2 linked regions of the Homo sapiens genome follow. The protein of the gene in region 1 interacts with the protein of each later gene in a biochemical or structural test. Each region holds a gene or a part of one and is shown in the gene's direction. Other genes may lie near its edges.

Region 1 (8,547 bases):
TACAGGTTCATTGCAACAGATGATTCACATTCTCCAAGCCCACTTTGTATAATATGTGGCAACAAGCTATCCAACAAAGCCATGAAACCTTCAAAACCACTTCACTGGCTGGGCACAGTGGCTCATGCCTGTAATCCCAGCACTTACAGAGGCCGAGGTAGATCACCTGAGGTCAGGAGTTCAAGACCAGCCTGGCCAACATGGGGAAACCCTGGCTCTGCAAAAATACAAAAATTAACCAGGCATGGTGGTGCACACCTTTAGTCCCAGCTTCTCGGGAGGCTGAGGCATGAGAATTGCTTGAACCTGGGAGGCGGAGGTTGCAGTGAGCCGAGATTGTGCCGCTGTGCTTTAGCCTGGGCGATAGAGCAAGACTCCATCTCAAAAAACAAACAAACAAAAAAAAAACTGCTTCACCACTTGGAGACCAAGCACCCTGCGTTTAAAAGACAAGCCTTTGGAGTTTTTCAAAAGAAATAAACATGAACGTGAAAAACAGAGGCAATTATTGAAAGCTCCCACTTCATCAAATGTGACTGCACTGAGAACATCTCATTCTTAGTGGCTAACTGCATTGCTAAAGCTAAGAAGCCCTTAACTAACTGCATTGCTAAAGTAAGAAGCCCTTTACTATTGAAGAGTTGATCCTGCCTGCTGCTAAGGACATTTGTCATGAACTTTTAGGAGAGGCTGCAGTTAAGCTGCAGTTCAAAAGGTGGCACATGTTCCTCTTTGAGCTAGCACCATAACTAGATGAATTGATGACATAGTAGAGGATATTGAGGCATAGTTGTTAGAGAGGATTGATGAGTCACCGTGGTACACATTGCAGGTTGACAAGTCTGCCGATGTTGACAACATGGCAACAATGCTTGTTTTTGTGCAATATATTTTCAGGAGGATGTGCATGAGACTATGTTATGTGTACTTCGTTGCCAACCAGCACCACAGCTGCAGAACTATTCAAGTCTTTTGAACGATTACATATCAGGAAAACTGAATTGGTCATTTTGTGTCGTATATGCACAGATGGAGCGGCTGCCATGGCTGGACGGCTTTCTGGTTTCACTACTCGAGTCAGAGAGGTCGCTTCTGGATGTGAGTCTATGCACTGTGTCATCCATAGAGAAATGCTGGCTAGCTGACAAATGTCACCTGAACTTAACGTTTTGCAGGATGTGATTAAAATTAACCACATTAAAGTACATGCCCTTAACCCATGTCTGTTCACGCAGTTCTGTGAGATGGATGCAGAGAATACTTCTCTTACACAGAGAAGCGAGATGGCGTTCTAAAGGTGGATCACTGGCCAGAGTTTTTGAGTTAAGAGGCCTGCTCCAGAGATTTCTCTAAGAATAACAGTCACCACTAGCAGAACATTTTAGTAACACAGAATGAGTGGTAAAACTTTTTTTTTTAAGTTCAGGGGTACATGTGCACGTTTGTCGCAGAGATAAACGTGTACCATCCCATCACCTAAGTATTAAGCCCACTGTCCATTAGCTAGTTTTCCTGATGCTCTCCGTCCCCAGCCTCCACAGGCCCCAGTGTGTGTTGTTCCCCTCCATGTGTCCATGTATACTCATCATTCAGCCCCCACTTACAAGTGAGAACATACGATACTTAGTTTTCTGTTCTGAGCATTGGGATTTTTGACATGTTTCAAACAGTAGGAGTGATTTTTGAAAGAGAGTGAGCCAGGGCCTTCTTTCTCACAGCTGGTGCATGATCACCTATCTCAGCTCTCAAAAGAGTTTGAGCATTACTTCCCAACCACAAAAGACCCCCGAACTGGGAAGGAATGGATCCACAACCCATTTATGAATAAGCCAGGTCAATCGACTTTGTTCATGCTTGAAGAGGATCAACTGGTTGAGATCACAAATGGCAGTGGCCTTAAAAGTATGGTTTGAGACAACTTCAAAATCTCCATATATTCTGGATTAAAGTCGAGGTGGAATATCCTGAGATTGCCAAAAAAGCACTGAAAAACCTGCTTCCATTTCCAATATCCTATCTTTGTGAAGCAAAGTTTTCTGCAGTGACAGCAACCAAAACAAGATTATGGAGTATACTGGACATAAGCAGCACACACTTCGAATGTCACTGTCTCTCATTGCCCCCAGATGGGACTGTCTAGTTGCAGGGAAAACAAGCTCAGGGTTCCCATTGATTCCACATTATGATGAGTTGTATAATTATATCATTATATATTACAATGTAATAATAGAAATAAAGTGCAGAATAAACATAATGCGTTTGAATCATCCTGAAACCATCCCCCCACCCCCAGGCTGTGGAAACATTGTCTTCCACAAAACTGGTCCCTGGTGCCAAAAAGGTTGAGGACCGCTGTCCTACTGCACTACAGTCATCATCTTGGGTAGATACTTATCTCCTGATTCACAGGGCCTGACACTGAGTAGGTACTTGGTACCTGTTTGTTATTGCCAGCTATAAATAAAATAGCTTTCCCTTCCATTGACATATGACCAGAGTTTTAAAAGGTAATGATTTCAAATAACTATATGTTAGATTCCGTTTTTCATTCATAAGGGAAATAATCTCTGATCATAACATAGAATTAAAAGATGATTTTCAGTAGTTTTGGCATTTGACCCAGGATTTATACATATTTTACAGATTTACAGATTTTAAGAAATAACTAATACTTTCTACCCAAGATATTCCTCCTGATTAGTTTGTGTTTTCTTTGCATGCTGAGTTTGTTTATTCTCAGTCACTCTTAGAATAAAACGCTTCTCACGTACAGGTGGCTTAGAGCAGCAGTCTCCAACCTTTTTGGCACCAGGGACTGGTTTCATGGAAGACAGTTTTTCCACAGATGCAGGGAAGGGGTTGGGGGCGGCAGCTGAATGGTTTTGGGATGAAACGGTTCCACCTTAGATCAGGCATTAGATTCTCATAAGGAATGCACAGTCCAGATCCCTCACATGCGCAGTTCACAATAGAATTTGCACTCCTATGAGGATCTAACAGGTGATGTGACAGGAGGCGGAGTTCACGTGGTAATGGTCACTGGCCTGCTCTTCACCACCTGCTGTGCGGCCCAGGCCACAGACCAGTACCAGTCCTGGGAGTTGGGAACCCCTGGTTTGGAGGAAGCAGAATGATTAGTTTTCACATCAGTCAGCATGAGTATTTCTTTTCTTTAAAAATTAGCACATATGACAGAAATTATCAAGAAAATAGAGGAGGAAAAGCATCAAGGAGTTTGGGTGCAGTTAATGGTATAATTCTCTGGAAGCATTTTTACAGTTTTATTTTGAAGCATATTGAGACAGGCAAAAATTAATGAGTTATAAGGTGGTAAAATGGACAGAGAATAGGACATCTCACTTATTTCCAAATGTTATGTCCCTTTGTCCCTTCTACAGTTTTTCCATTTTTCCTAAAAACCATTTGTGCTTGTTGTCTATTTAAGTTCACCTCAAACAGGAAGAACAGCCACATGTGCAAGAGCCAGTAAAGGACATTCCTTGGAAGGTGGGGGGCAGTTCCTGAGAGCAAAGATGGGTCAGCCAACAAATACTTGAGCATTTCCTATGTGCCAGGCACTGCGGAAAATAGTGGTTTAAAAAAAAAAGGAACAAAAAAACAAGGTTCCTACCCTCTTGGACCTTACAGAGAAATGGTGTTTTTTTTTTTTTGTTTTTTTTTTTTAAATCATAAATAGGCTAGGTATGGTGGCTCACACTTGTAATCCCAACACTTGGGGAGGGTGAGGCAGGATGATTGCTGGAATCCAGGAGTTCAAGACCAGCCTGGGCAACATAGACAAACCCTATCTGTACAGAAAAAATTGTTTTAAATTAAGAATTCTAAATAATAATTGCAAGTAAGCAAAGTGTGTTGTAATGGAGAAGCACCACATACTCATGGTGAGAGCCTATGACCTGGCATTGGGAGGTCTGGTGAGTAAGACTGCCTAAGGAAGTGATGTTGACTGAGACTCCAAGGTGGAGTCAGAGTTAGCCAAGCAAAGAGGATGGAAAGAGCATGCAGAGACCAGGAGGCAGGTGAGAGCATGGTGTGCTCTAGGACCCAGGAGAAGCAAGAACTGCCGCACTAGAGGTCCGAACAACCAGCTAGAGATGCAGGTGCCTCTCAGCCTCCTGTCCCCTGAGTCACAGGGTTATTATGGGTGTTTCTCAGGTTCCTGATTTGAGCAGCTGACTGTGACTCTGGTAATGATACCCAAGAGAAGGTACATGATTTTTTTTTTTTTAACTTTTTACTGTCAAAAATTTCAGACAGTGACAAAGGGTAAAAATAATAGCAAAATGAACCCCCATGTTCTTATCACTCAGCTTCAGCAATTATTGGTCATAGCTGATCTTATTTTATTCCTGCATACCCTTACCTTCTTCCCCACTCCATATAATTTTGAAGCAAATCTTAGCCATTGTATCATTTCATCAGCGAGAATTATAGTGTTTGTCTTATCTACCAGGACTTCTAGCTCTCTGATTTTATGGGACTCTATCGGACAAAGGGACTGAGCTGTAGCACATAGTAGAAAGAAAGTGACTGCAGTTCGTGGCCTTACAGCATTTGTTCTGTGAGCCAGCCCACAGATCCTCAACACTTTGTCCCCTGTGGAGCGTCGAGGATATTTAATGAATCCCTTTTGGACTATTTTTAGAAGGAGAAGATGAGGAAGACGAGGACGATGAGGATGGTGAAGAAGAGGAGTTTGATGAAGAAGATGATGAAGATGAAGATGTAGAAGGGGATGAGGACGACGATGAAGTCAGTGAGGAGGTCAGTGCAGCTGTTTTCTACCCTGCTTCCTATTTGTAATTACAACAAAAGTGGGGGTTTCAAAAAGATGACAAAAGAAAAGAAAAAACACCTTTTGAAGAAATTAGTATACCTGTGAATACATTTACAATATGAATCTGGTTAATTTAGTGTTTGTCTGGCTTTAAATAACTACTAAATAGAATGCCTACTGAACTCAAACTAGTACGGTTCCTGGCTGTGCAAGGTAAGTTCTGGCCCTCTGGGGGAAGGAATGAATTGAGTATTCAGTGTGGTGAGAAAACTGGACATGTTGAGAATTGATGGTATGTCTGTTCCTTCATTGAATTGTAGGGAAGTTTATGTTTACCAAGTCTAAACTTTTTCTTGTATATTCAGTGTAATTCAGTAAATATATATCTGCTATGTTAAAGAGTTGGGAGTACAAAATGAAATGAGATTGTGGTCCTGCCCTGAAAGAGCACAGTCTGGTTTATGAAATACCCAATAATAGAGGATCCCTGAGGAAATAAATGCTATACGAGGGCAGGAGAAAACAGTGTCTTGACTTTGACCCTCAAAGAGGTTTGGGAAACAGGCAGACAACATTAGTTGTTAACAAAACGCATCCTCTTTTGTAGTATAAAAATAAGGCTTGGGGTTTGTGTGATGTCATTAGGTGTATGATTGACATTAAAGTTCTGAAAGAAGCTTTGTATATGAATGGGATATAGAAATTTTTGTCTAAATCTGTTTTGAAATTTGAGATTTTAAGATGTTTTCTTGAATTATCCAGAGTTATATACTAATTAAACATCTAGCAAATGAACTGCTTGCTTCTAAAAAAAATTTTTCTTAGAAAAATTATAAAGCTCGTTAAGGAAAATCAGTGGGTCTTGGTACATCAAAGTAGATAAAAATAACATTACAGTTTCCTGCTTGATTGATATTGTTGCATTTATTTGTACTTCTTAGTTTGGCAGAATTTGTACTATATGCACTTTTCAATTTGGCAGAATTAATTTAATGTTATGCTGTTTGCTATTCTTTAGGAAGAAGAATTTGGACTTGATGAAGAAGATGAAGATGAGGATGAGGATGAAGGTGGGCCTAATGCATGCATTTTGATCATTCTCAGTTAAAAATTAGAGAAAAACATCCATTATTTAGAATATGATACCACTGAGAAGAAAATAAAATACTCTTGGCTCTGGTGGTTTACACATTCACATTCTCGTTTCTATCGTCCCATCAGTGTGTCTGTGCTGGTGCAGGCTCCCTGCTGCTACAGCAGTTATTCCTGTCTCATGGCAAGGGTCCTGTTGGTCTTCAGTCCTCATGGGGTTTTTTTCGGGGTGGTGGTGGTGGTGGTGGTGTTTTGAGACGGAATCTCGCTCTGTTGCCCAGGCTGGAGTGCAGTGGCACGATCTCGGCTCACTGCAAGTTCCGCCTCCTAGGTTCAAGCCATTCTCCTGCCTCAGCCTCCAGAGTAGCTGGGGCTACAGGCGCCTGCCACCACGCCCAGCTAATTGTTTGCATTTTTAGTAGAGACGGGGTTTCACCGTGTTAGCCAGGATGGTCTCAATCTCCTGACCTCGTGGTCCACCCGCCTCAGCCTCCCAAAGTGCCGGGATTACAGGCGTGAGCCACCACACCCGGCCTGTTGTTTTCTTGAGATGGAGTCTTGCTCTGTCGCCCAGTCTGGAGTTCACTGGTGCAATCTAAGCTCACTGCAGCCTCCACCTCCCAGGTTCAAGGGATTCTCTGCCTCAGCCTCCTCAGTAGCTGGGATTACAGGCATGCACCACCACACTTGGCTAATTTTTGTATTTTTAGTAGAGACAGGGTTTTGCCATGTTGGCCAGCCTGGTCTTGAATTCCTGGCTGAATTCAAGTGATCCACCCACCTCGGCCTCCCAAATTACTCGGATTACAGGTGTGAGCCACCATGCCTAGCCTGTTCCCCATGTTTTAAATGTGTTTTTAGGACCAGTCATTTGGTTTACTGTCAAGTGTGAGTTTCTGTGTTTGGAGTTCTTTCATTTTTTAAAAAAAGGCTTTAATAATTGAACCATCATTTTCAGGATATATAAATAGATGTAGCAGTTTCCCAGTTTTGTCAGTGTTAGTCCTTTCCCCACTACAACCAAGACAAATGAAATAGCTGTTACTTATTTAATACTGTTGAAAGTATGCCAGCCTGGACAACATAGACCCTGTCTGTACAGAAAATTAAAAAGTTAGCTGGGACCGGGTGTGGTGACTCACGCCTGTTATCTCAGCACTTTAGGAGGCCGAGGCAGGTGGATCACCTGAGGTCAGGAGTTCGAGAGCAGCCTGGCCAACATGGTAAAATCCTGTCTCTACTAAAAATTAAAAAATTAGTCAGGCGTGGTGGCACGCACTCAAACCCAGGAGGCAGAGATTCAGTGAGCTGAGGTCATGCCACTGCACTGCAGCCTGGACAACAGAGCAAGACTCTGTCTCAAAAAAAAAAAAAAGTTAGCTGCACATGGTGGTGCACACCTATAGTCCCAGCTACTTGGGAAGCTGAGGTGGGAGGACTGCTTGAAGTTGCAGTGAGGCTATGATAGTGCCACCGCACTCCAGCCTGAGTGACAGAGGGAGACCTTGTCTCAAATAAAAAGTCTCATGGTTGTGTCTCAGAAAATCAGGTGTTCACTGTGCTGTTGGCTGATGTTTTCTCAGCATCCACTTTGTCAAGCTCTCAATTACATTTACACTAGATATTACCCTGGTTAGGACCTGGTCACTGCCTTTAAGAACCTGTATGATTGGGAGGCCGAGGCGGGTGGATCATGAGGTCAGGAGATCGAGACCATCCTGGCTAACACGGTGAAACCCCGTCTCTACTAAAAATACAAAAAAATTAGCCGGGTGTGGTGGCAGGCGCCTGTAGTCCCAGCTACTCGGGAGGCTGAGTCAGGAGAACGGCATGAACCCGGGAGGCGGAGCTTGCAGTGAGCCGAGATCAAGCCACTGCACTCCAGCCTGGGCGACGGAGCCAGAGTCTGTCTCAAAAAAAAAAACAACCTGTATGAAATATGATTTAACATATAGTTAATTTCATTAAAATAACCATGGATTTTATTAGTTGAAAAAATTGGTCTATATGTAAGTCTCTGTGTCTCGACTACATAATACTCTTAAGAATTTCCTTTTTAGTTAATATTAGTTTGCTACAATTTGAGTCTTAATGATGTTCCATACTATGTTTTGTGTGTTATTTAATTCTCAGAATAACCTTTTAAAGTCAGTACCATTGTCCCCATTTTACAGATGAAAAAGGCTTAAAGAGGTTAAGCTTGTCTGAGATCACTTGAAAGTAAGCATGTCTTGAAGACGTGCTAGATAGCACGAGGGGTTTTGTTTTGTTTTTTTGGAGACAGTTTCGCTCTTATCACCCAGGCTGGAGTCCAGTGGCACAATCTCAGCTCACTGCAACCTCCGCCTTCCGGATTCAAGCAATTCTCATGCCTCATCATCCAGAGTAGCTGGGATTACAGGTACATGCCACCATGCCTGGCTCATTTTTGTATTTTTAGTAGAGACGGAGTTTCACCATGTTGGCCAGGGTGGTCTGGAACTCCTGACCTCAGGTGATCTGCCTGCCTTGGCCTCCCAAAGTGCTGGGATTATAGGCATGAGCCAGTGGGCCTGACCAGCTCAGGTTAATAATAAGCACTTTAATAATTGCTAGATTTGTAAAAAGAAACATTTGGAAGACAACACCTTAAAATCGAGGAAACTGGATTAACTTTT
Region 2 (8,547 bases), on another chromosome or scaffold:
TGAAATAGGTAATCTGATGTTTTCTCTCCTCCCTACTTTTACTCATTCCACTTTCATTTCATGAAACAGTTCCGGTTACTCTCTTAGTTGGCTTTCTGATTTATTCCAGACCCTAACCAGGTACCATAGGTGCAGCATGGAACAAGTCTTTCTGCTGTCATAGAGTTGGCATTTTGTTTCCAGAGAGACGTAATAAACACGAAAGTTTCAGATTAAATGCCACAAAGAAAATAAAACAAGACATGACAGTGTCTAGGGTAGGATTTCTCAACCTATTAACATTTTGAGGCCAAGCGCCGTGGCCAGCACTTTGGGAGGCTGAGGCGGGTGGATCACGAGGTCAGGAGTTCGAGACCATTCTGGCTAACATGGTGAAACCCCGTCTCTGCTAAAAATACAAAAATTAGCCGAGAGTGGTGGCATGCGCCTGTAGTCCCAGCTACTTGAGAGAGTGAGGCAGGAGAATCGCTTGAACCCAGGAGGCGGAGGTTGCAGTGAGCTGAGACTGTGCCATTGCACTCCAGCCTGGGCGACAGAGTGAGACTCTGTCTCCAAAAAAAAAAAAAAAATTTTTTTTTTTTGGCCCATATAATTCTTCATTGTGGTGTGCTGTGCATTGCATTGTGGGACATTTAGCAGAATCCCTGGCCTCTACCCACTGGATGTGAATAGCATCCCTTTGAGCCCTCCCTGCATCATGACAACCAAAAACATCTCTAGACTGTGTCAAATGGCCCCCGAGGACAGAGGGGTCAGAATTGCCTCCACCTTGTACATAATTGGCTCTACATATGTATTTGCTAACTTGATTATTTGCAGAATTTAACAGTTTACCCTTTGACACTTTTATTTGCAGCCATGGATTGCAAAGATAGACCAGCTTTTCCAGTTAAGAAGTTAATACAAGGTAATTATTTGGAAATGGGTTAAAGAGTTGTTCGTAGTTTATAGTCTTCCTTGTCTCTTGTTGGAGACCTCAGTGGAAGCCTGGAGCTAGAGGGGAGAGAAACAGTCCTTCTTCAGACCAGGAAGCTGGGAAAATGCTTTTCACACAGTAATGTCTCGTGGGGTTCCCACAAGTAAACCCCGAGGCCTCCACTTATGCACGATTGGTGTTTTGTAACTTGCAGCTGGGAGCTCTCCTGTATGTTGTAGGGAGCGTAGCAGCATCCCTGGCCTCTTCCCACCGGATGCCAGTAAGTGCATCCTCCAAGTCGTAACAACCAAAAATATCTCTATACGTGGCTGATGTCCCCTGGGAGGTAGAACTGCCCCCTCAGAGAACCACTGTTGTCCTGGAAGATAAATGCTCCCAAATCCTTCTGCATAAAACGGGGAGTGTGTTCACCCTTGGGCCAGATGAGCGGTTGGATTGTAATTTTTTTTTTTTTTTTTTTGAGACGGAGTCTCATTCTGTTGCCCAGGCTGGAGTGCAGTGGTGCGATCTCTGCTCACTGCAACCTCCGCCTCCTGGGTTCAAGCAATTCTCCTCCTTCAGCCTCCCAAGTAGCTGGGATTACAGGCGCGTGCCACCACACCCAGCTAATTTTTCTATTTTTAGTAGAGATGGGGTTTTACCATGTTGGCCGGGATGGTCTCGATCTCCTGACCTTGTGATCCCCCTGCCTCAGCCTTTCAAAGTGCTGGGATTACAGGTGTGAGCCACCGCACCCGGCCCAGATTGTATTTTTAGAAACTACAGTTTTGGGTTTTTCAAACTTGGGCTGGGTGCAGTGTTGCATACCTGTAAAACCAGCTATTTGAGAGGCTGGGGTGGGAGGAGTGCTTGAGTCCAGGAGTTCAAGGCTGCGGTGAATTATAATGACACCACTGCTCTTCAGCCTGGATGACAGAGGAAGACTCTGTCTCTTGAAAAAAAGGGGGACGCCAGATGCTAGGCTCACACCTGTAATCCTAGCACTTTGGGAAGCTAAGGTGGGCGGATTGTCTGAGCTCAGGAGTTTGAAACCAGCCTGGCCAACATGGTGAAACCCCGTCTCTACTAAAATACAAAATAGCTGGGCATGGTAGGGGGCACCTGTAGTCCCAGCTACTCAGGAGGCCGAGGCAAGAGAATTGTTTGAACCCGGAAGGAAGAGGTTGCAGTGAGCCAAGGGTGCGCCACTGCACTCCAGCCTGGTGACAGAGCAAGACTCTGTCTCAAAACAAACAACTCCCCCCACACCCCCCCCAAAAAAAAACAGGTTTTTATTTGGTCTATTACATGATGAAATAGTTAATAAAAGATGCAATGGCATTGAAGTAAGTGAACATAGGTTCTTTGGGAAATTCACTCTCCAAAGTGTTTCTGTGTTCCTCCTAACCAGCCCGAAGCCTGGCAGACTCTGGGAGAACAGTTTGATTGATGAGAAAAGCCTAACAGAGCCTAGGGTGCTGAGGCCAGGAGAAAAAAAAAAAACCCTGTCCACAAATGTGTCTATATTTTCTACTTGAGAACCAGATGCAGTTATTATCAAATGAGATTTTCACCCATTAAAAATAAATTTGGAATATGAACTGCATCTGAAATAAACAAATGTCTCTTGAAATTCTGGCGATGGCTCTGCTAAAAGGCTTGTCAGGATTTTGTTTTTTAAGTTAGGATGTTGAAGCGGGGCATGGTGACTCACATCTGTAGTCCCAGCACCTTGGGAGGTGGAGGCGGGCAGATCACCTGAGGTCAGGAGTTTGAGACCAGCCTGGCCAACATGGCGAAACCCTGTCTCTACTAAAAATACAAAAATTAGCTGGGTGTAGTAGTGCATGCCTGTAATCCCAGCTACTTGAGAAGCTGAGGCAGGAGAATAGCTTGAACCCAGGAGGTGGAGGTTGCAGTGAGCTGAGGTGGCGCCATTGCACTCCAACATGGGTGACGAGCAAGACTGTCTCCAAAAGAAAAAAAAATAAGTAAAATTAGGATGTTAGAAAAGGATAGAATGAAAAGATAGCACCCCCCACCCCCTCTTTTTTTTTGAGACGAGGTCCCTTTTGCCCAGGCTGCAGAGTAGTTGCACCACCACAGCTCACTGCAGCCTCTACCTCCTGGGCTCAAGCGATCCTCCTGCCTCAGCCTCCCGAAGTGCTGGGATTATAGATGTAAGTCAGTGTACCTGGCTTCAGATAGCCCCTGCCCCGTCTTTTTTTTTTTTTTTTCTTTTGAGAGTTTCGCTCAGGTCGCCCAGGCTGGAGTGCAGTGGCGTGATCTCAGCTCACTGCAGGCTCCGCCCCCCGGGTTCACACCATTCTCCTGCCTCAGTCTCCCGAGTAGCTGGGAATGCAGGCGCCCGCCACCTCACCCGGCTAATTTTTTGTACTTTTAGTAGAGACGGGGTTTCACCGTGTTAGCCAGGATGGTCTCGATCTCCTGACCTTGTGATCCGCCTGCCTTGGCCTCCCGCACCCGGCCTTTTTTTTTTTTTTTTTTTTTTTTTTTTTTGAGAGGGAGTCTGTCTCTGTCGCCCAGGCTACAGTGCAGTGTTGGGATCTCAGCTCACTTCAACCTCTGCCTCCCAGGTTCAAGCGATTCTCCTACCTCAGCCTCCTCAGTAACTGGTATTACAGGCGTGTGCCACCATGGCCTGGCTAATTTTTGTAGTTTTAGAAAAGACGGGGTTTCACCATTTTGGTCTGGCTGGTCTCAAACTCCTGACCTTGTGATCTGCTTGCCTCGGCCTCCCCAAAGTGCTGGGATTACAGGCATGAGCCACCACACCCGGCCCAGATAGTCCCTTTTTAAACTTTAAAATTATCTCCCACCCCCATGTCCCAACAAATCAGTAATTTTCAAGCTCATGAGTGGTTGTAACTTTAAACGTTCACTAGAGATGGCTTTCTGTCTTTGTTTCAGCCCGTCTGCCGTTTAAGCGCCTGAATCTTGTCCCAAAGGGGAAAGCCGATGACATGTCAGACGATCAGGGTACTTCTGTGCAAAGTAAAAGCCCCGATTTAGAGGCCTCTTTGGACACCTTGGAAAACAACTGTCATGTGGGTTCTGACATAGACTTTAGACCGAAACTTGTCAACGGGAAGGGTCCCTTAGATAACTTTTTAAGAAATAGAATCGAAACCAGTATTGGCCAGAGCACAGTCATCATTGATTTGACAGAGGACTCGAATGAGCAGCCAGACAGTCTTGTGGACCACAATAAACTAAATTCTGAAGCCTCTCCCTCCAGGGAGGCAATAAATGGCCAGCGAGAAGACACTGGGGATCAGCAGGGGTTGTTGAAGGCCATTCAGAACGACAAGTTGGCATTTCCTGGAGAGACCCTTTCAGACATTCCTTGCAAAACAGAGGAGGAGGGTGTTGGCTGTGGAGGTGCAGGGAGGAGAGGCGACTCCCAGGAATGTTCGCCACGGAGCTGCCCGGAGCTGACGAGTGGCCCGAGAATGTGCCCCAGAAAGGAGCAGGACAGTTGGAGTGAAGCTGGGGGCATCCTGTTCAAAGGGAAGGTGCCTATGGTGGTCTTGCAGGACATCTTGGCTGTGAGACCACCGCAAATCAAGTCCCTTCCAGCCACACCCCAAGGCAAGAACATGACCCCTGAGAGTGAGGTGCTGGAATCTTTCCCCGAAGAAGACTCTGTACTCAGCCATTCGTCCCTGAGCTCTCCCTCTTCCACCAGCTCGCCCGAGGGGCCGCCTGCTCCCCCAAAGCAGCACAGCAGTACCAGTCCCTTCCCCACCTCCACGCCCCTCCGCAGAGTGAGTATCTCCCATGGAGTCCCTGCACATCAGTGCTCACGGATCTCAGAGCGCTGTCAGTCTCCACTGGGTCACCCAGGTGTTTTGTGGCAGAGTGAGCGGGGCCACGGGCTGGGTCCTGGGACTCGACGTGGAGTTCTTCCTGGTATCAAAACTCACAGTGTTCAGTTCTGCATTCGTTGTGATGCCCCTGGGACTTAATTCATCAACAGTGTACCTGGTGTACTGTGTGAATAACACCCTGCTGTTTTGCCTTCGTTGTTCACATCTAATCAGTGATAGCTTAGCCGTTTTAGGGAATTAGGATCTGAGCTGGTGCTGTAACCCCTCACTTCAGATTCGAGGTCCAGCTTTCTCTGTGCCCTTCCTGTCTAAGCATAGAAATGTAGGGACGGGGCTGCAAAGACACTGAGCACTGAAGTGGCAGTGAGACGGCAGGAAGCATGACTTGGGGAATTCTGTAGGGTCAGCACAGCCAGCCATCTTAAAAACCTTACCTGGGGCCAGGCACAGTGGCTCATGCCTGTCATCCCAGCACTTTGAGAGGCCGAGGTGGGAGGATCGCTTGAAGATCACTTCAAAACCAACCTGGGCAACATAGACACCATCTCTATGAAAAAAAATTACTTTTTTTTTTTTTTTTGACAGAGTCACTCTATCACCCAGGCTGGAGTTCAGTGGCGTGATCTCGGCTCACTGCAACCTCCACCTCCCAGGTTCAAGCGATTCTCCTGCCTCAGCATCCCTGATAGCTGGGATTACAGGTGCGCACCACCACACTTGGCTAATTTTTATATTTTTAGTAGAGACAGGGTTTCACTATCTTGGCCAGGCTGGTCTTGAATTTCTGACCTCAAGTAATCTGCCCGTCTTGGCCTCCCAAAGTGCTGGAATTATAGGCATGAGCCACTGCACCCAGCCCTGCAAAAAAATTTTTAAAAGTTATCCAGGCATGGTGGCACATGCCTGTAGTCCCAGCCACCTGGGAAACTGAGGCAGGAGGATCACTTGAGCTGAGGAGTTGGAGGCCGCAGCGAGCTATGATCACACTGCCGCGCTCCAGCCTGGGTGACAGAGCGAGACCCCATCTGGAACCATTTTTAAGGACCCCATAAGGGGGACTTTTGCATGGTCTGTCTCTGTTATTGATTTTTTATTAGCACAATGGTGTCCTTAAGGTCTTAGGGACCAAACTGATAAAATCAGTCACGAGTCCCACGGTGTTTAGTGGTGTCTTTTGATTTTATAATTTTTTACTTTTTATCTTAAGTATGTAGAACCAGAAGAGACAGTGCCTTTTTATGTTTTTGGTTTTGTAGCACTTTTGTTTGTTCATGTTGGGTCTTTATATGAGAGTAGTAGATCCTGAGATGGGTCATTTAATCTGTACCTGTAAGCAGGTACAGTAGACCACCTGGACCATAAACCACCAACCTTGTTCGCTTTCGGGATTTTGAGCTCTAAGGAACCATTTATTTATTTATTTTTGAGACAGAGTCTTGCTCTGTCACCCAGGCTGGAGTACAATGGCGCCATCTCAGCTCACTGCAACCTCCGCCTCTTGGGTTCAAGCAATTCTCCTGCCTCACCCTCTCAAGTAGCTGGGATTAGAGGCACCCGCCACCATGCCCAGCTAATTTTTGTATTTTTAGTAGAGACGGGGTTTTGCCATGATGGCCAGACTGATTTCAAACTCCTGACCTCAGGTAATCCACCCGCCTTGGCCTCCCAAGTTTCTGGGATTATAGGCGTGAGCCACTGTGCTTGGCCAAGAGCATTTATTTTTCTGAATGACTTCATTTCTTGTCTTTCACCTGAGAAGATGAAAAAGGAAAAAATGGCTTCCTCTTTAGGTTTATGAAATGTTGTAAAAATGGTGCAAATCTTTTTTTTTTTTTTTTTTTTTGAGACATGGTCTCACCCTGTCGCCCAGGCTGGAGGGCAATGGCATGGTCTCAGCCTACTGCAGCCTCCACCTTCTAGGTTCAAGCGATTTTCCTGCGTCAGCCTCTTGAGTAGCTGGGATTACAGGTGCCCACCACCACGCCTGGCTAATTTTTGTATCTTTTCAGTAGAGACGGGTTTCACCATGTTGGCCAGGCTGGCCTCAAACTTCTGACCTCAGGTGATCCGCTTGCCTCGGCCTCCCAAAGTGCTGGGATTACAGGCATGAGCCACCGCCCCAGTCTTCTACTTTGTTTTATATGTGCTGGTTTGTTATATAGGTAAACTCTTGTCGTGGGGGTTTGTTGTACAGATTATTTTATCACTCAGGTACTAAGCCTAGTACCCTCTTCTAAGTTACTAAATGTGCCAGACTGGCATGTACACATTTCAGCTTCTACCTAATCCACCACTCAATCTCCCAAAATCAGAGTTGAAGTCTCTCCCCATTGGGCATCCTGTAGTGTACATTCGATCACTTGAATTTCTTCCAGGCTGCTGCCGCTTTGCAAAATTTCGTCCTGTGATGTGAGCCATTTAGCAAGAACGGGACACATGGCTGGGCGCGGTGGCTCACACCTGCAATCCCAGCACTTTGGGACGCCGAGGCGGGTGGATCACCTAAGGTCGAGAGTTCAAGACCAGGCTGACCATTATGGAGAAACCCCGTCTCTACTAAAAATACAGAAAATTAGCTGGGTATGGTGACGCTTGCCTGTAATCCCAGCTACGCCGGAGGCTGAGGCGGGAGAACCGCTTGAACCCAGGAGGCAGAGGTTGCGGTGGCCTGAGATCGTGCCATTGCACTCCAGCCTGGGTAACAAGAACAAAACTCCGTCTCAAGAAAAAAAAAAAGGACAGGACACAAGCACATGTTTCCATTAAGTTTGTTTCCATGTCCACAGCTTAGTCTGCAAACTGGGAAGTCCCCTCGTTGGGCATCATGGTGGCACAATCCTGCCCGCTTTCTAAAACAACTGAGCACATGAACCCAGTGTGCAACATTTAGGAAACCCTGCATTTAGGACGCTAGATCTTGTTCTGAACACAGACTCGAGGTTTTGGGATGCACTTGAAGGCAATATTATCCCAACTTTTCAGATAATTTACAAGTGGTAAAGGCTTCAGGCTGGCCCAGAGCCTATGGCAGAAAGCGGCCACAACCACCCGCAGAGGGCCTGTCAGTCACCGAAGCTATGAGGGAAGCGATTATCGGGAGGCCTCCTCATGCCCTGATGGCAGGGATCCCTGAGATCCCAGCTGAGAGAGACTCCATCCCCAACCCCTACTTTATCTCCGAACCTTTAAGGAGTCCTGCATTTCTGGTTTGGTTGGTTTGCTTGCTTCATAGTTGGTACCTAACTCTTTTTTATTTTTTATTTTTTTTGAGGCGGAATCTCACTCTTTTGCCCAGGTTGGAGTGCAATGGCGTGATCTTGGCTCCTGCAACCGCTGCCTCCTGGGTTCAAGCAATTCTCCTGTCTCAACCTCCCAAGTAGCTGGGATTACAGGCACGCGCCACCAGGCCCAGCTAATTTTTGTATTTTTAGTGGAGATGGGGTTTCACCGTGTTGGACAGGCTGGTCTCGAACTCCTGACCTCGTGATCCGCCCGCCTCGGCCTCCCAAAGTGCTGGGATTACAGGTGTGAGCCACCGCGCCTGGCCAGTTGGTACCTAACTCTTAACACCTTTCCTTGCCGTGACGTCCAAGCCACCCCCTTCCCACAACCCCTGTTCCTCTGGGGAATACACTGTTTTTGCACTTTACCTCCCTACCAGCAGCTCTTTCCAGATTGCAGGGGCGAGCTGGTGGGAAGCTTGCAGATTGTTTCGCACTGCCGTGTAATCTGTGTGCTTGTCACTGGGGTCTGTTCTTCCTTGAGTTGGTACAGTGAAAT

What was found.
Region 2: the proteins of ANP32B (region 1) and CHAF1A form a complex in vitro, tested with the Homo sapiens proteins (one study listed by BioGRID).

The regions. Positions count from the first base shown.
Region 1 is NC_000009.12:98,006,605-98,015,151, forward strand, and holds part of ANP32B (acidic leucine-rich nuclear phosphoprotein 32 family member B), read left to right. Parts: intron 1-4,666; coding exon 4,667-4,785; intron 4,786-5,816; coding exon 5,817-5,868; intron 5,869-8,547. UniProt on the Homo sapiens protein: Multifunctional protein that is involved in the regulation of many processes including cell proliferation, apoptosis, cell cycle progression or transcription.
Region 2 is NC_000019.10:4,405,056-4,413,602, forward strand, and holds part of CHAF1A (chromatin assembly factor 1 subunit A), read left to right. Parts: intron 1-856; coding exon 857-907; intron 908-3,847; coding exon 3,848-4,704; intron 4,705-5,449; exon of another isoform or gene 5,450-5,468; intron 5,469-8,547. UniProt on the Homo sapiens protein: Acts as a component of the histone chaperone complex chromatin assembly factor 1 (CAF-1), which assembles histone octamers onto DNA during replication and repair.